2 separate regions of the Homo sapiens genome follow, and region 1 is linked to region 2. Evidence: fine-mapped expression QTL. Tissue or cell type: fibroblasts. Region 2 holds a variant in brackets; the other region holds the start of a gene. All regions are shown on one strand. Distances are between the middles of the regions.

The links. PIP is the estimated chance that this variant, and not a neighbour inherited with it, causes the effect.
Region 1: PPP2R2C starts here. The variant in region 2 is fine-mapped to the expression of PPP2R2C in fibroblasts (GTEx, PIP above 0.99).

The regions. Positions count from the first base shown.
Region 1 is chr4:6,470,500-6,475,499 of GRCh38, reverse strand. It overlaps PPP2R2C (protein phosphatase 2 regulatory subunit Bgamma), which reads left to right and starts at 2,886. Exons shown (of 9, transcript NM_020416.4): 1 at 2,886-3,340. The coding sequence starts at 3,271. RefSeq lists an enhancer at 4,577-5,000.
Region 2 is chr4:6,559,058-6,564,057 of GRCh38, reverse strand. It overlaps a transcript of PPP2R2C not described here. Among named protein-coding and RNA genes, the nearest start is that of MAN2B2, 14 kb to the left of the region's middle. The variant C/T (reference allele first, on the strand shown) is at 2,842.

The DNA of each region.
Region 1 (5,000 bases), 89 kb after region 2:
TGGAGGGCACGGCAGTGAGTGAGGAGATGGCGAGTGTAGCTGTACCCTTTTGGCATTGTGGTTGTGAATGGCAGAAATGCAATGTGCTGGTGGCTGAAGGGACACGGAGTGAGGATAGCTTTTGAATGTGGAAGAGACCCAAGCAGGCTTACGCTGTGAGAAGCATCTGGAGAGATGCTGACAAATTTCACCTTATTGAGCTTTCCTCTACACTCACCTTTATAAAATGGCACCTCCTCCTCCCCGTTCCTTTCTATCTCCATCTCCATCCCCGCCTTCATCTCCATCTCCATCCCCATCTCCATCCCCGTTCATCTCCATCTCCATTCCCGCCTTCTCCTCTGCACCAGTCATGGCCCACACAGTACATGCTCACTTTATGCTGTCCATCTCACCCCACTGGGAGGCCAGCTCCACGAGAGCAGAGCATTTCTCTATTCTGTCTTCCACACTACCCTAGTGCTGGGAACATGCCTACACATAGTAGATGCTCAATAAACATTCCTCATTGAATGAATGAAAGTACAGAGAGGAGTCTGTACAGAGAGGCTGGGGGTGGCAGGATCTGGAGCTCAGGCTCTGTCAGCGGGGGCAGGGCTGTGTGCAGATACAGATGAGGAAGCAGCAGATTGTGTGATTTAGTGGAGGTGGGGGGTGGGCAGGGGGCTGAGGGAGAGTCCTCGGTTGTGCTGGAGGGGGAGGGCTTCCAGGAAATGGAGGAGACAGTGTGGAGGAGCCCAGACACTGCTTGTGGTGGGGGTGGGGCAGGATGGGGTGGTGAGGGGTGAGGAGGGGATGGATGCAAGCCTTGGGGCCCAGTCAGGTTGGAAAGACCACCCACTGCAGGGTCCCCAGCATGGCTCAGAAGCTGATGAAAGGGATGATGTACTGTGTCAGGCCAGAGTGGGGCTGTTTTCATTGTAGTCCAGGACATCCCGGGAGATGAGGCTGATGCCAGCATAGGGTGGGTGTTTTGGCAGGATTGACAGATAGGGAGAGGGGACTTCTCCATGATCAGAGAGGGAGGCTGAGGAACATGCGGGAGGGTGGGCCTCAGCATGATAACAAGAGAGCTCCCAGGAGGCCTGACCCCTGCTGAGCAGGACTGGCCACCCCAACCCAGTGGGGCCACTCCTGCCATCACATCCACTTTACAGATGAGGTTGTGCCTGGGCCCCCTTGTGGTCAGGACTTGAACCCAGCCTGTCTTTCTCCCAGCATAGCCATTTTGCTGGCTCCAGCTAGAGAGGTGAGGGGGTGTGGACAGAGAGTGGGGGGCTGGCCTTAGGATGTGAGGTGGGGGGCATGTGAGCAGACAGGTGAGAGAGAGAGAGGAGAACATGCCAGGTGGGTGGGGGCCAATGTGGGTGTCGGTCACTTTCCTACGGGGTAGAAAGTGACAAAGAACAAGCACATCCTTCCGGCCCTTGCATTTACCTGGTCCTTGAATGGAGTCTGCACAGCTGGGAGATTTTGGCTTGTTCCACAGTGAAAAGGTAGAGGCTGGAACAGGGCAGGGCACTTGCCAAAGCAGGTGCTGGCAGGGCCCCAGGGCCTCTCCCCAGGCCAGCCCTTGCATGACAGCCTGCAGAGTGCTGGTGGGGCTGCTGGGGGGCTTTCATCTCCTCATAGGTCCATTCTGGGGATTTCAAAGGCACGAAAGCTGTAGCTTCAAAAACTCCCTCTCAATCTCCAAGAAATCTGAGACGGCATCACCTTCCCTCGTCTTTCCCACAGCCCCAGTCTCCCTGCCCCCAACGCCTTTGGACTCTCCTACCTCCACTGCAGTTTGGGGAGCTGTCTGGAGTTCCCCCAGAACCATTTGAAACAAGTGGAGGCCATTACAGACCAGCCCCCACCTGGAGCATGGCTCCACTGATGCCTTAGACCCAAGAGCCCCTGCAGCTCTGGTCACCCCACTGCACTTACCCCTCCCAGGCAAGCCACAGAGTCCCTCGCTTTCCAGGAAGGCTCTGTTGAGCTCCTAGGGAGGGCTGATGGTTCCTCACCCACACCTCTGAATCCCCACTGGGGCTTGTGTCCCGTGCAGGGGACTGTGATTCATTAGGCGGTGGGTCACGGTGGAGGAGGTGGCAGCTTGGCAAAACAGGAGGCAAATATTTTTTGAGGGCCCACTATGTGCCAGGCTGATTACCAGAGGGAGGTTCCTGTTTGGCAGAGCCCTGGGTTTGGAGGGGAGGGAGGGAAGGGAGGAGGGGGACGCATTTTCCAGCCTGGTTTTGGAGGTACCTAGCTCTGTATTTCTTTAACTTTCTCACTCGTCAGGAGAGGTGGGCATGAGGAGAGATCTCAGAGCCCTGCCTGGGGGAGGCCCAATCACCCCTCCAGCCATTTCATCCAGTTTTGCCTTGTCGGCTGCTGGACCCCCTCCACCAGCTTCTTCACATGTACTTAATGCTCCCAACGGGCCCCAGAACTTGCGCGACCCACCCTCTTCTACTAATGAAGGGAGACAGTGTCCTTCCCCTCCCCCGAGTCCCCATTCTCCAGGTGCGCCCTCTTCAACTGCGACCCCACTCCTTCCTTCCTAGTCCTTTCTGCCTTCTGCCTGCGAGGCTGCTCTCCTCCTGCCCCCTTCCCAGCACCCCGGCTCTTGGCCTTCTCTCCCATAACTGGAGCACCTGGGCACCCAAGGTACCCTCCCCCCAAGCTCAGCTGATCACCCTCTCCCCGCAAGCTGGCGGTCTCCTTCCTCCCTCCCCCGTGGCGCACCCAGCACCAAGGTGCCCACCGCGAGGGCCCGAGCACGGCGGTGCAGCCTCGGCTTGGGCGCCGGCTCCACCTGCAGGGCCGCGGGGGCGGAGAGCGGGCGGCGCGAGGGAGGGGCCTGCGACAGCGGCGGCGGCGGCGGCCCCAGCCCGCGCAGCCCGGCTCGGCCCCGGCTTGGTCGGCGCAGCGCAGCGCCGCGCGCGTCCCCTCGCCGCCGTCGCCGCAGCCAGGCGCACCGGCACCAGGCCCCGCCGCCGGGCGCACGGACGCAGCGCGCACGGGCCGGCCGGGATGCGCGCCTGGGCCCCGGCCCGCCCGAACCCGCGGCCGCCGCCCGCCCACCGCGCGCTCGCTTGACCGCGGCGCCCGCCCCCGGCCGCCCCCGCCCGTCCCCCTGCCGCGATGCCCTCCCTTCGGGGCCCCGGCGGCCCGCGCCCCTGCTAGGCTGCGGCGGCATGGCCCGCGCGCCCGGCGCGACCTCTGCGGATTGCATCGGTGTGTGGCGGCGGGGCATGCCCAGAGCACCGGGCACGGCCTTCAATGGGCGAGGACACGGACACGCGGAAAATTAACCACAGCTTCCTGCGGGACCACAGCTATGTGACTGAAGGTAACGTACGTGTTGTCTGAGACCCCTCCGGCCGGCCGCGGCGTGGGGATGCCGTCGCACCGAATGCCCTCCGAAGGTTTGGACCGCGCGATGTGTGTCGTGTCCCCCCGCCCCACCCCACCCCACCCCATCCCACCCCACCCCACCCCATCCCATCCCACCCTGCCCGGGGCCCAGGAGGGAGGGAGCCCGAGGGTACCGGCCTCCGCTGCCCAGCGCCGGCACAGGGCAGCGCCCTCCTCCGCGCCGCCCTCCGGGAGGCAGCTTTCCTCTCCCAAGCCAGGTGGCATCCTGATTCGGCCCTGACCATAATTTTTTAAAAGGCCACGGCTGTGGCTAATCTGGTGAAGAAATCTCGGGGAAATTTAATGGTTTAAATCCTGGATTTGCCATTTCAGCCCTGCCCAAAGCCCGCAGAATTTTCTAGGCTGCCCTCTCCCTGGAGAAGAAGAGGGACCCGGGGGGAAAAAAACATAATCCATTGCCAGATCCTCCTGGGAGGCCCGCCTGCCCGGGCCCCTCCCTGTCCTCCAGAGGCAGGGTCCCTGAGTGGGAGGGAGAAGGCGGCTGGTTTGGGGCTGGCCTTTTTATTCCTGGTGAGTTATATTGAGACAGGAGCAGCTGGGCTAACTGTCGGGATTTTCCAAAAAAGTGGGACATGCCATCCCAAACAGGCCCTGTTTAAAATCCCCTAAGTTGGCCCTACAAGCCCAACCCCCACCCCCACCCTACCCCCGAGGCTGGTGGGTCAGCGCCCCTCTCTTACAGGCCTGGAACTTCCGGGGGCCCCCTGGTCTGCCTCGCTAGGGGAACAGTGGGGACAGCTTCCGTGCGCAGGCAGGGCCCGCGGAGTGACCCCGATGGAGGATGGGGACCGGGAGGTCTGGGCTCGGGGCCGCCTGTGCTGGAGCCCTGCCCGAGTGCGGGGACTGTCAGCCGCTAACCCACGGGCTGGCGGCCCGGCCGCAGAAGTGTGCGCGGATTCCCCGGGTGGGTGCCCCAGTGGGAGGGGCCCTGGGCACGGGTCCCGCGGGGCAGGTGCGCGTGGGTGCCTGTGTCAGGGAGACCGAGTGGGCCAGGCGGCGGAGACCGGGCTCCTGCGGCTGGGTCCGCCTCCTCGAAGCCTGGCTCTGCCGGAAATGAGGCCGAGCGGAGCCGGAGCCCCGCGGAGGCCCGGGGAGCGCAGCGCGAGCGCGGGCGCGGGCGGGCTCGGGGCGCCCTGGCCCGGGAGGCAGAGGCTGGGCGTGGGACCTGGGCGGAGGGAGGCTGCGGGGGCCGCGCCCGCTCCCGGCGGGAGAACCGCTGAGTCACGCACGCTTCGCCGCCGGGTGTGTGCGAGAGAGGGGCAGGGCTGCCCGGGCCTCCGGGCCGGTGGGGCTCTGACCCGGCCGCGGCTTTGGGAGGCCCGGGGAGCTGAGAGCGGTCCTTTGTCGCCTGCTTCGGCGAGGCTGAGTCGGGATCAGCGTGGGTCCGGGATGTGGTTTCTGCTCGCAGCCTGCAGCGACAGAGGGTTGGAGGAAGCCGCCGGGTTGCTGGCCCGTGCCTCGGTGGCCTGGCTCGGGCCGAGAGCGGATCTTGGCAGGTTGCCCCGCTGCTCCCAGGCTCGCTGTGGTCTGGCTTCCTGGAGCAAGCCTCTGTTTGCTCATCTCTACGTTGGGGA
Region 2 (5,000 bases):
CGCACCCACACCCCGCCCCGCGCCCGCACCCCGCGCCTCTTACCCGGTGCCCGGCCCCGCGCCCCGCGATCCGCGCCCTGCGATCCGCGCCTCGCGATCGTCGCCCCGCGCCCACCCTCGGCGCCCGCAGCCGCACCCCGCGCCCCGCACCCGCGCTCCGGGCGGAGCCTTCTGGGCGCGCCTCCCCGCCCGCCCGCCCGCGCAGGGAGCCGAGCCCGGAGGAGGCGGAGGAGGAGCGGCCGCCGCGCCCGGCCCCCCGCAGCCGCCCGGAGGACGCCCGTCGCGGTCGCAGCCTGCGGAGCCGCCCATGGCCCAGCAGCCGGGTTAGCCTCGCCGCGCGCCCCCGCCCCCCGCCCCCCGCCCCGGGCCCGCGCTCACGCGCCCTTGCTGTTTTGCCAGCTGACCGCGCCCCCGCCGCGCCCGCCGCGCCCGCCGCCGACCAGGGCTCCTGGTGCCTGTGCCAGCTCAATGGGGCCGCCGACCTCGAAGTTTCCGAAGGTAAGCGCGGGCTGCAGGGCGCCCGGCCCCGCCGCTCCGGAGCCGCCTCGCGCCCACCCCGCCTCACCCCCAGCCCCGCAGGACCTCACCCTGCCCGGGGACGCGGCCCTCGGGTGCGGGACTCCCGCGACTGGAGGAGAGGGCGCGTCTTCGCGGGCCAGAAGCGAGACTCAGAGAGCCCGGGCACCGACCCCGGGGCGGTCCTGGGGCAGGGCTGGCTCTGCTAGGGTCCGAAGTGCCGGGGTCCCTCCGGAGCGCGTGCTCTCGGGGTCTTGAGGGAACCCGACAGAACCGGCTTGGAACCCTGCCTCCAGCACTTGCTCGCCGCGCGAGCCAGGGCAGATCGCTCCACCGGTGTCAGCCACAGCGTCTCGGCCGAGAACCGGCGCGCTCGAGCCCCCCCTCGCTGCCCGGCTGAAGGTGCGGGCGCGGGGTCCGGCTCGGAGTCCGGGGTAAGACCCAATGCGGCGGAGTTCAGTCCCGGCCGCGGGTACCATCCAGCAGCGTCTACGCGCTCCTCCCGCTGCCCGCGCCGGTGGGTGCTGAGTCAGGCCCGGCTGCTGCTCTGGTTTGGAGAAGCCTTTTTTTTTTTTTTTTGGCTGGCAGGGACAGTCCATGACAGTGGCGCGCCCAGAGCCCGAAGAGCGTTGGTGGGATGGACAGCTGCTCTCGCACCCTGGGAAGTGACCCGGGTTGGCTTTTATGCGGAGGGTCCCAGGGACAGGGACCACACACTCTGTGGCCCGAGACGCTGCCCCGCCTGGATTGAATCCTAGCTTCGCCCTGACCGGCCGGGTGGCCTTCAGCAAGTGGCTTACTCTCTCAGGGCCTCAGTTTCTCTTCTGTGAAATGGGGATGACGTTGCTTAGCGGGCAAGGTTGTGGCAGAGATAAAAGAAGAGGCCTATGGGGGGTACTGGTGAGGGCCCAGGAATCTGTTTTTGCTTTCTTCCCTCCTCCCTTCAGGGGCCCAGTGAGGTGGGTGATGGAAGGTACAGAGGGCTGGTGGACCGGGGTAGGGTGCTGGTCTCTGTCACTTTATATAACAAACACACTGTTCCAAGAGCTTTCAAATATCCAACCCCCCCCCCCGACTCCGTTGAATCCTCCCCACATTATCCCCATTATAGGATAAGGAAACTGAGGTGCAGAGAAGTTAAGTAACTTGCCCGAGGCCACACAGCTGCCAGTGGGAGAGCTCCAGAGGCTGTGGCGAGTCCTCTTTGGCATGTGCTCACACTGTCACGGGAAGACATCACAGGGACACTGTCAGCAACATGGAGGGGACGGGCTGTGGCAGGGAGTGGGGCCCGTTGCCCACAGGTGAGCTCCTCTGTCAGCTGTCAGTGCCCCACAATCTGCTGCAGCTGCCTCCTCAGTCTCATTGTCCCCCGCACTCTGACCACGCCCTGGTCGCCTGCTCATGCTCAGCTCCCTCCAGGCCCCTGAATGTGTCTGTTTCCTACCTCCCTGCTGTGGAGTGAGGGTTTCCGCCCACCTGGGATGCCTTCTCTGTCCCAGGTGTCCTCACCCCTGGGAATACCCTCACCCCTTGAGGGCAGGGACTATATCCGGTCATGTCTGCAGGACACTGACTGTGCTTGGCAAATCGCAGCTTCTCAGTGTGGAATTGTTGACTGTCGATTAGTGAGTGCGTGAGTGAGTGAATGCCACATGGCCTTTCTCTGCTTTTCAGAAAAGGGGTAGGCAGGCTCGATGTAGAACCTTCTTCAGCTCTCTTAGGACTCCCTAGAGCCTGCTTGCGGCTGGCAATGGGTCACGGAAGATCTTTGGGCTGGGAGTCAGTCCCTGGGTTCTAAACGCCAGTGTGTGTATGTATCCATGTATGTATCTGTGGGTGTGTCTGTGTATCTGTGTGTGTATCCAAGTGTGTCTGTGTAGCTCTATGTCTGTATAGGTGTGTCTGTGTGTGTGTTTGTGTCTCTCTCCGTGTGTGTAGCCATTAAGCTCTTTTTGGAATAAAAAAATTGCAAAATGAATGCATGATCACCAGCATCTTGGAAAAACATGAAACAATATGGAAATAGTTGGAGTAAAAGGTGCAAGTCCTCCCCTCCCCCTCCCCCCACCTCCTTCCGACCCAGGACCAGCTACATAATTTGTGGGGCTCAGTGCAAAATGAAAATGCAGGGCCCTGTGTTCAAAAAGTAGGGGAAAGTGTGGTTAAAAGTGCTCACTTTCTCCTGCACTCTCTCTCCGCCTGTCATGGTGGTTTTATTTCCTGTGTAACATCGTGTTCCTTTGGGCATGGGGATGCTTGCAGGGTGAGTGCAGACTCTTGCAAGACGCCTGTCTTCTGGCCAGGGACAGGGAAGTTGAGTGT[C/T]GAGTCAGGCATTTCCCCTTCCCACAGGTCCACAGGTCGATGCCCCAATCCATGGCAGACAGGTACCCCACAGGGCATTGCAGCCTTGGGGTTGAGACAGTTGGTACCTGATGTTCCTGCTGAACTGCCCACCGAACACACAGTGGCACTGCCAGCCCAGGGAAGGGCGGTCACCGCCATGATCCACCCCAGGATGCACTGGGGTGCATACACTCCTAGACCCAGACCCCTGCCAGGGGAGGAGGGCAGCAGTGACACTGAGACAAGGCACAAAGAGGAGGAAGGGTGGGGTCCAGGGTGCCAGAGGCCAGGGGAGCAGTCAGCTGAGAACCCAGGTTGGGGAGGTGGCAGGAGGCAGGAGCACACGCTCCATGCTCACAGCACAGGCTCTGCTGTTCCATCAGACATTGCTTAGGAAACACACATTCAAAGATTCAGCTGTCAGGAATTTTATGACTCTGCAGAGCCTTAAACCCCAAGCACGAGCCCCTTCCAAGCATGAGGCCTGTGTGGCTGCCTGGGTCACACACTTGTGAAGCGGGTGCAGCTCCAACCCCATGGCTGTGGATAGGCACAGAGCTCCAGTAACAGCAGCCAACACTGAGAGGTGCTTTGTAGGATCCAGGGACGCTTCCAGTGCTTCCTAGGTATGAGCTGCTTTCCTTCCGCCACAACCTGGTGAAATGGGTGCTCTTGTTGGCTCCGTTTTACTGAGGCACAGAGAGATTAAGTGATCTGCCTGAGGTCCCACAGCTGTTAGTGGCGGAGAGCCTTTCAGTCCTCCCCCAAGGCTTGTCCTTGGTCACTCTACCCCACCACCTCTCAACAAGGGCCTGGAGCTCACTGCTGCTGTCAGAAAAAAAGCAAATCTTATTTTTTTCATTTGCCAGTATGGAAACGCCCCTGGCTTGGAGTTGCTTCCAGAAGAACATAGAAGTTCCAGCCCTTAGTCTGGTAGCCAAGAGCCTGGGTGGGCTGGGCCTGGGGGGCTGTGCACTGTCCCCTGCTTGCCCTCCTCCAGGAGGGTCTTGCATGGGTCTTGCATGGGGCTGCTCCCTGCCCTGGGGCACCCCTGCCCCTGCCTTGCCTGGCTAACGCCTGCATAGCCTTCAAGGGCCCCAGGATGCCTCTTCCTTGGTGGGCTTCCCCTGTGGTTCCCCCAACACCTTAAGGGACATGTCAATTTTGACGTGGAATCCCCAGGGTTTGAGTTGCCCCTTGGGGTCACACACCACATGTTTGAGGAGTGAATGGATGAAATGGCCTGAAATCTGATTAGCACATGGAACACAGTTCAGGAAGGGAGCTGTCTTAGTCCGTTGGGGCTGCCGTAACAAAACACCATATAGCCTGGGCAGCTTATGAACAACACAGGTTTATTTCTCACCGTTCTGGAGGCTGGAAGTCCAAGATCAAGGCGTGGCGGATTCAGTGTCTGGTGAGGACCTGCGTTCTGGTTCACGGATGGTGCCTTCTTGCAGTACCCTCTCAGGGTGGAAGGGGCAAATGAGCTCCCTTGAGTCTATTTTAGAAGGGCACTAATTTCCTTCTAATTGTTTCCCCAGGGCCCGGCTCCTCATATCTCACATTGGGGGTTAGGATTTCAACATAGGAATTCAGGGGGACACAAGCATCCAGTCCACAGCAGGGGGGATTTTGGAGGAAGTTATGCATGGGGCAAGAATTGGGTTAAGGTGTTGGGAGTGTAGTTGGCACAGTGATCACAGATGCTGCGTGTTGCAAATTTGCAGCCCTGGGTGAAGTTTAATCTCTTTGCCTCTGTTCTGTGTGTGTGTGTGTGTGTGTGTGTGTGTGTGTGTGCTGTGTATTTTTTCAGAACTGCCATTTATTGGGCACTTCTGTGAGCCTGGCACTGCACGGGCACTATGCACTATACACTCTATCTCACTTATCCTCAAGTCAACTTGTGAGGGTGTGGACGTGCCCACTGCCCCCGGTTTTACAGAGGAGCACACTGAGGTGCCAGTGATGTGCTCCAGGCTGCTTAGCAGTGAGAGATGGATCTGAACCTAGTTCTTCCTGCCTTGGCTGGACTGCGAGCTGCTCTCCCAGTGTTTAAATTTAGGTTCTGTTCTGTGATTCCTTCTCAGGAAACTGCTATTGTCAGGGCTGCCTGCTCATCAGAGCCCCTGTCTCAG